3 separate regions of the Homo sapiens genome follow, and all the other regions are linked to region 2. The links come from fine-mapping of genetic effects on gene expression. A gene starts in region 2. Each other region holds a variant in brackets. All regions are shown on one strand. Distances are from middle to middle.

What was found. PIP is the estimated chance that this variant, and not a neighbour inherited with it, causes the effect.
Region 1: its variant is the best candidate, but not a certain one, in a credible set for the expression of CSNK1E in whole blood (INTERVAL, PIP 0.72).
Region 3: its variant is the best candidate, but not a certain one, in a credible set for the expression of CSNK1E in whole blood (INTERVAL, PIP 0.83).

The regions. Positions count from the first base shown.
Region 1 is chr22:38,356,138-38,358,893 of GRCh38, reverse strand. All of the region lies in intron 4 of TPTEP2-CSNK1E (TPTEP2-CSNK1E readthrough), which reads left to right. It also overlaps the pseudogene TPTEP2. Among named protein-coding and RNA genes, the nearest start is that of CSNK1E, 40 kb to the right of the region's middle. The variant A/G (reference allele first, on the strand shown) is at 1,465.
Region 2 is chr22:38,316,215-38,318,970 of GRCh38, reverse strand. CSNK1E (casein kinase 1 epsilon) reads left to right here and starts at 1,538. Exons shown (of 11, transcript NM_152221.3): 1 at 1,538-1,811. All of the region lies in intron 5 of TPTEP2-CSNK1E (TPTEP2-CSNK1E readthrough), which reads left to right. RefSeq lists an enhancer at 1-98 and a silencer at 1,821-2,210.
Region 3 is chr22:38,288,578-38,291,333 of GRCh38, reverse strand. TPTEP2-CSNK1E (TPTEP2-CSNK1E readthrough) reads left to right here. Exons shown (of 15, transcript NM_001289912.2): 15 at 1-643. CSNK1E (casein kinase 1 epsilon) reads left to right here. Exons shown (of 11, transcript NM_152221.3): 11 at 1-643. Among named protein-coding and RNA genes, the nearest start is that of TMEM184B, 17 kb to the right of the region's middle. RefSeq lists enhancers at 662-1,369, 1,370-2,079. The variant A/T (reference allele first, on the strand shown) is at 1,396.

The DNA.
Region 1 (2,756 bases), 40 kb before region 2:
GAAGACCCCAAAACAACCAGAAAACAAATAACAAAATGGCAGGAGTAAGTCCTTACTTATCAATAATAACATTGAGTGTCAGTAGACTAAACTTTTCAATCAAAAGATAGAGTGGATGAATGGATGAAAGAACAAGACCCATCCAGGTGTGGTGGCTCACGCCTGTAATCCCAGCAGTTTGGGAGGCCAAGGCAGGCAGATCATGAGGTCAAGAGCTAGAGACCATCCTGGCAAACATGGTGAAACCCTGTCTCTACTAAAAATACAAAAATTAGCAGGGTGTGGTGGTGCGCACCTGTAGTCCCAGCTACTCAGGAGGCTGAGGCAGGAGAATCACTTGAACCCGGGAGGCAGAGGTTGCAGTGAGCCGAGATGGTGCCACTGCACTCCAGTCTGGTGACAGAGCAAGACTCCAGCTCAAAAATAAATAAATAAATAAATAAATAAAATAAAATAAAAAGACCCATTGCTCTGTTGCCTACAGGAAACACTCTTCTCCCATAAAGACACATGTAGGCTGGAAGTGGTGTCTCACTCCTATAATCCCAGCACTTTGGGAGGCAGAGGCGGGTGGTTTACTGGAGGTCAGGAGTTCAAGACCAGCCTGGCCAATATGGTGAAACCGCGTCTCTACTAAAAATACAAAAAATTCGTCGGTCATGGTGGCGGTCGCCTGTGATCCCAGCTATCACCACTGAAACTCCTTTCAGTTTTCAGAAACAAACTGTAGGTGACCAGAAGCGTTATCCGCTAAGCGCACCACTTTAAGTCCCTGACTTAGAGCCACAAGTGTTCTGTTTACCTATTGTTACTACTCTTTTCACTCTGGCAAACAGATTAATTCACACAAAATTTTATTTGAATGGCTTTTCAATTTATCATAACAATGGTTACTAAAAAGTGAGAGAATATGTACTAAGGGTTGAGTACAAGTTAGTGCTAGTAGAAAATAAGAGCCTTAATAGAGAAAAAACTAGTTCTAATCAAAGACTGGATTTAGTCAATGATGTTTATATTTTTAGCTTACATTTATAGCTTCAGAAACATTTTGTTACTGATATTCCTATCATAATTATTGTTTCAAAAATTCTCTAGTCCCTAACCTTCCTTTTTTCATTAAACAACTGTTTTAAAATTAAACTGTTATCTTGAAGGTTTTTTTTTCTTTTGAGACTGAGTTTTGCTCCTGTAGCCCAGGCTGGAGTGTAATGGCACAATCTCGGCTCACTGCAACCTCCAGCTACCAGGTTCAAGTGATTCTCCTGCCTCAGCCTCCCAAGTATCTGGGATTACAGGCATGAACCACCACGCCCAGCTAATTTTTTGTATTTTTAGTAGAGATGGGGTTTCACTGTGTCGGCCAGGCTGGTCTTGAACTCCTGACCTCAAGTGATCTGCCCGCCTTGGCCTCCCAAAGTGCTGGGATTACAGGCATGAGCCTGGGTCCTCAGCCTTGAAGATCTT[A/G]TAGAAAAAAGCAACTACTGTGTTATAGAATAACAAACTTTAAATAGAAACAAAGACATTTTAATACAATCTTAATTACTCTGTGAACATGTAGATTAACCTTTAAATATAGGCTTTTTTTTTTCCTCAAAACAGGATAAGAGTTATCTTCTCATTTTTAATTTCCAAGTTGAAACTACAGATGACTATGTTTACTGAATCACATTTCAGGATCTTAAATCTTCGGACAATTATGTGTTCTTTTTTTCTTCACATTTTTGGAACTCCCTCAGATTTAACATCAATTAAATAACCTAGCTAAAACCTTGAACTCTTTTCAAAACAGTAAGTGGTAGAATAACAATAATTTCATACTCATAGTTTTAAAAGAATTAAACAACTGGATTTGACAGACATTTTCACAATTTTTTGTTGTCATGCAATTTTGGATACAGCCATTCTGCATGGTTTCACAAAGTTGGCATAGAGAAATATAAGTTTCCTAAGTTGAAACGGAAGATTATAAAAGAGGGAAGGAGAATGAGAGTAAGAGACTGGTTAAAGATGCAAAGGATTTCCACTTCTTCATTGTTATGTAAATGTGTCTGCTTTTTAAAAAGCACAATCACTGAAAAATCTATTTGGATAATGCCTTCACTCTATGCAACTATATCTGACTACAGGCTGAGCACCCTTAATCCAAAAATTCTGAAATGCTCCAAAATGTGAAATTTTTTGAGTGCCAACATGATGCCAAAAGTGGAAAATTCCACACCCGACCTTCTGTGACAGGTTTGCAGTGAAAATGCAGGTATACAACATGAAGATGAGGTCAGGGAGTCATCTAAGACAAAAACCATTGTTAATAAGGCAGATGACTCCATAGGGAACTTTTTTTTTTTTTTTTTTTTTTTGAGACAGAGTGCAGCTCAGTCGCCCAGGCTGGAGTGCAGTGGTATGATCTCAGCTCACTGCAACCTCTGAGTCCCAGGTTCAAGCGATTCTCCTGCCTCAGCCTCCCGAGTAGCTGGGACTACAGGCATGCATCACCACGCCCGGCTAATTTTTGTATTTTTAGTAGAGACGGGGTTTCACCATGTTGGTCAGGATGTTCTCAATCTCTTAACCTAGTGATCCGCCCGCCTCTGCCTCCCAAAGTGCTGGGATGACAGGTGTGAGCCACCGCGCCAGGCCCATAGGAAACATTTTTAAAAGCCGGCCGGCAGAATGTCTCCTTAGCCTTAACGGACCCGCTTCCTGGTCCCTCAGCTGCTTCTGATGTTTCTTCTTGCCTAAGAAAAAATAAAATGTGG
Region 2 (2,756 bases):
ATTCCAGCTATTCAGGAGGGAGGCTGAGGCTGGAGAATCACTTGAACCCAGGAGGCAGAGGTTGCAGTGAGCCGATATTGAGCCACTGCACTCCAGCCTGAGCCACACAGCGAGACTCTATCTCAAAACCAACAAAAACAAAAAGCAAAAAAAAAAAAAAAAACTTTGGGGATTAATTAACAAAACAACAACAGAAAGCACCGCGCAGGCCAAGTAAAGCCCACCACCTGGCTGGTGACCCCCTGCTCTGGCAAAGGTGTCACTGAAGGCAGGCCCTCCTGGGAGGAGGCTTCTCACTCTCCTGCTCTTGGAAATGGGCTCTAGATAGACCCAGTTTCCTGGTGATCGCTGGGAGAACAGAGCTGTCCTGTTGGGCTTTGTGGTCCTGGGCAAAGCCCTTCCCCTCTCTGGGCCAGTTTCCTGGCCGGCGAAAGGACTTAGTCTGTGGGGCTCCTGCCCGTTTGGACACGTGTGTGACTCAGTCCCTCAGCCTCGAGGAGGGAAGATACGGCTATTATAGAAGTGACTCCTCCCAGGAACTGTGCTTCCGGGATTGGACGCAGGGCCTCAGGCATTTTGCGTGTCCACAGTCACAACTGTGTGAATATAGGTGTGTCATAATTGGAAGCTTTGCATGGCTCAGTGTAAATATCATCACTTTAATGACTTTGTTCTGCAACCTTTCATCGCGGCTCTGCATGCCGGTAGAAGCTTTTATTAATTCTGTGACCTGGGGAGGACAGGGTCCTTCCTCCCATTTGCTGTTTAAGGAAACCCAAGCTCAGAGCTGGGAGGTGGCTTGGCTAAACGTGCACCACTCGGAGCCCAGACTCAAGTGTCGGTGCTTTGGTACTTGTGGCACCCCTCCTTCAACAGGGGAGAATGAGGTTGGGATCTGAGGGGTCCTCTCTGTGCCCATCACAGTTTGAGCTTCAGGGAAAAGAAGAAGAGGTCTTTGCCCTTCGTTTTTCCACGGGAGGAGAATGTATGAGCCCAGGCTACCTTTCTGGGCCTTGTGTCGACATCCCTAGCTGTCTCCTCAAATCTCTTGCCCTGAATCAACCTGGCCTGTGTTCTCTGCGGCACTCGGAACCTGGAGGCGGACTGAGCCTCCAGCAGTCTAACATCTTTTGCAGTGTCGTGAATAGCCGCCTGTTTTCGCAGGGGCCCAGTGCTCTGCCTGGAGAGGAGAGAGATCCTGGCAGGCGGGGAGAGGAGACTTTGGGTCTAGACCCTCCCCTCCCATCCCCTCACCTCCGCTTTTTGTGCGCCCTCCTCTTCCCTCTGTCCCCCCCGCACCCCGTCTTTTCCACCTGTGCCCTGGACTGCATTAGGGTGTCAGTATCTGTGTGCTCCCCCACCCCCACGCGTAAGCCCGCGCGCCTGCACTGAGGCTGGGGAACTGCGTCTCGCAGCTGCGGCCCCCAGCGCGGAGGGCGCGGGCCCTTTAAATCCTCCGGGGCGGCGGCGGCGGGCCGGGGATGACATCAGCGGGCGGGCCCGGGGCTCAATGGGAGCCGGCGGGCGCGCGCGGTGCGAGAGCGCGCGAGCCGGCGGCGGGGGCGGGCGGGCGGGCAGGAGGCCGGGAGGAGGGAGGCGGCGGCGGCGGCGGCGGCGGCGGCGAGAGCCCAGAGCCAGAGCCCGGCCGGGGCCGAGCGGAGCGCGGCGGCGGCGGCGGCGGCGGCGGCTGGGCCGGGAGAGGCTGGCGCGCCGGGCGGCTCCGCGAATCCTCCGGCATCCGCCCCGGCGGGCCGCCCCCGCCCGCGGCAGCCCCCCGAGCAGTGGCCCGGCATCGGCGCCTTCCCGGCGGGGTAAATATCGGGGGGCCGCGGGCCCGCGGAAGGGTGCAAACCTGGGGGGAATCGGGCTCCCTCAGCCTCTTTGTTTTTGCTGGAGAGGGAGGGAAGGGAGGGCAGACACACGCGCGTTCGCGCTGGGGTGTAGGGGGGGCAGCCCGGGCGCCGCCCGCTCGGCCCGGCGAGGACAAAGGCGCGGCTGGGGACGAGGAGGAGGGGGCCTGTTATTTTGCAGGCTCGCGGGGGAGGCCCCCCGGCCGGCCTGCCTCCGCTTCCCCCCGCTGGGCCCTCCGAGGCCCCGGCCGGCCAGGCGGCCACCCCGGCTGTGATTTGGGGACGCTGAGGGAGGGGGCTTGGGGTGCTGGGCGCCGGATACTGTTGATTCGGGCCCGCGTAGCGTTTCATCGGACAATCACCGGCGCCCCCTGCTCTCCCGGCCCCGGCGCCCGGACCTGGGGGTTCGCAAGGCTGCGCCCGCTCGTTGGATGACGGGCGTTTGGGGGTCCTAAGGTGAAGAGGTGTGTGGTCACCAGGCCACTGATTTGTTTTTCTTTGTGGAGAGAAAGAAAGGGGTGGGGGTTATTTGTCGGATCGGATTCTCCCATTTTTGTGTGAGAGATTGATGTCTTGCAAGTCTCTAAGGAACGCAAAACAGTGTCTGGGTGTCGTTAGAGGATTCCCAAGCTCTTGTTAATACCCTAACTCGAAGTGGGGTGAGCCCCCTCCCCAACTTTTCCCTTAGTTTTCTTGCATATTTTCTTCCTGGCATAGCCTCCTTCCTGGAGAAGGATTTGGAGAGAGGAGAAGGGGACACAAGTGTCTCAAGTTGCTTCCAAGCAATGCCTGTGTTTGGGTCTCCTTTGCCTTCGTTTCTATGATGTCCCTTCAATTTTTATTTTAATCGTCCGAGGGACAAGGGCCCCGGCTCAGGGGTAGGCGATGGTGTTCGGGGAGTAAGAA
Region 3 (2,756 bases), 28 kb after region 2:
ATTGACCTGTGTTTCCCAAGACAGCAGGTGCCACGGCCCGCCCCGCCTGCCAGCCCGAATTCCCGTTCTCCTGTGTCTACTAACAAGGACATGGGGGTGGGCGGTGACCTCCGCATCCCTCAGAGCTCAGAGGGTCCTCGCTGCCACCGGTCCCCCCCTAGCCCGTCATCAGCCGGTGGCAGCTCCATCTTCCATTCCTGGTTTTAGGGCAGAATCCATGGAGACTGCTTCCAGAAGGCATCTGGCTCTGAGTTATAAATTACTTCCCTGGTCCTGACAGTCACCTGGGGTCCCCCCTCTCCCTGGTTCCACCTTTCTGAGGAGGAGCCTGGAGTCAGGGCTGGGTTTTGGATTAACCCATCCTTCCTAGTTAACACCTTTTTGTTTTTATTTTATTTTATTTTTGTTTGTTTTCTCCGTGTGTGTGTTTTCCTAATTTATTTACCTCTGTTTCCCCTTTTTCCTTTTTTTTTTTAATTAAAGAGCAAAGCTTTTTATTACTTTGTAATTTAAAAAACTGAAAAAAAAAAAACTGAAGAACTTTGGGGGGAATTTTGTACTTTTTTCCTGTGTAAATATTGGACTTTTTTGAGCTTTATCGTGGTTGTTAATTTGAAGTAATAAAGTAGAAAAGATAAAGTGATGCAGGCAGCCCTTTGTCCACCTCTGTGCCCTTAGGGCCTCTCCCTGCAGACCCGGAAGTGGGTCTTGCTGGGAGCAGCAGGAGTCAGTGAGGAACAAGCCCTCGCCCTGAAGGCAGGTGTGGCTGGGGCCACTTTCAGAACACTTGGGCTGTGGTTGGGATGTCCGGGGGCTTTGAAAACACGAGTGCACACAGGTGCCACGCCACAGGTGCCACGCGGGGGTCTTGTAAAGAGGGCTGGGGTGGGGCTGAGAGCTTCCCCCTGCACACTCCAGGTGTGCTGATGGCCTGGGGCCCCTCTTTGAGAAGCAAGGCCCTAAAAGCTCTTCACACATGATTTTATCCACACAAGTATCCTGAGTTAGGTCCTGTTAATAGCCCTGCCTTCGGACAAGAAACTGGTCCTGCTGTAAAATATCTTGCCCACAGTCACAGCTCTGGTGGCAGAGGCAAGACGAGCCGAGGTCATCTCGCTGTGGGGGTTGTGGGGGTGCTCTGACCCTCTCCACTGCTGACCCTGGGGCTCCATGAAGGAGAGTGCTGGAGCGAGCTCTGATAGTGACTCTGGATGAGGTCCTTCAGTCAAGCCTTGATAAAAGGGCAGCGCTCAGCCTCGCCTGCCTTGGTCTCACCAGCTTGGAAAAGAATCTGTCCATCTGCATTTACCCAACACAGTTTACTTCCTTTCGTCAACCGAAGAGCCATTATTGCCACAGTCTCAACCCAGAGGCAAGACGGAAGCTGTCTGGCTG[A/T]TAGGTCTGCCTGGGAAGCGGATGGAGGGCCCTGGGAGGTTCCCCTCGGGCGTTTTGAAATCCTGGACATAGGTCAAGGCGCCTTCCAGTGCTGGCCGTCAAGACCCAGTGACCCACAGGCTCACGGCCTGGTGGAGGGTTTCCTGCTGTGTGAGGCCCAAGTAAAGGTGGGTCCCCTTTACAGGCATCAGGTATCAGGTGTGTTACCAAAGCCAGGAAATGCCAGTAGGCCCTGGAATGGCAGGTGCTAAGCAGAGCCTGGGCCTTGGGGCTGGGTGGCAGCCAGGAGTCAGTGGTCAATTGGTCAGCCTGCGAAGAGCCATTTTGTTCACCCGCACTTGGTTGAATGAGGTGCTGGGGGAATGCAGCAGAGAGTTCCCCTGCCTCCCTGGACTTTAGGACCTTCTGGGATGGACAACCTGACACCAGACAGCGAGTGGAAGTTACCAACTAGAGGCCCTGAGAGAAAATAATAAGGAGCTGGTCTTTGTCTTTTACAGTGAAAAGTATAGTTTTGTTTTTTTTTTTGTTTTGTTTTGTTTTTGAGACAGGATCTTGCTCTGTCACCCAGGCTGGACTGCAGTGGTGAAGTCATGGCTCACTGCAGCCTCAACTTCCCAGGCTCAAGGGATCCTCCTGCCTCAGCCTCCCTAACAGCTGGGACCACAGGTGCGTGCCACCATGCCTGGCTAACTTTTGTATTTTTTGTAGAGATTAGATCTCACTGTGTTGCCCAGGCTGGTCTTGAACTCCTGGGCTCAAGCAATCCTCCCACCTCAGTCTCCGAAAGTGCTGGATTTACAGGCATGAGCCATTGTGCCCACCCTATTTAATCAATTTTAATAATAAGCTAATGCTTCTCCCCCTCCTCTTTTTTGGTTTATTTTTTGGATATGAAGGTGTTTACATACACGAAAGTCAAGCTGTCTAAAAAGCTATAATCTGAGAATCCCTCCCGCCCCTGCTGCTCTGCCCCATTTCTACCCATCATGCTTCTTCCTGCATTCCTTTCTTAGAGAGCTAATGTTTGGGAGTGGGCAGTGACTGACAGCCTCTAAGGAAGTGACATTAATGCGTCAACCATACAGTTTAAGTACACCAAATAATCACAAGGAAATTTTGCCCCTACCAGAGGGGGCAAACAGGCACCTGGTGAGTCATTTTCATTCATGCCACAAAAAACACTTGCTAACTGGGCTTTTGTGTGGGCACCAGGGTGCCAGCTACTAGGCTGGAGGTGGTGCAGGCGTGGAGGGTTGGGAGCACAGGATTGGCATCCTGGGGGCTTCGGGCACATCTCAGTTTCCTCCTCTGTAATGTGGAGGTGATGATGCCTGTTTCTTTCTTTTTTTTTTTTTTTG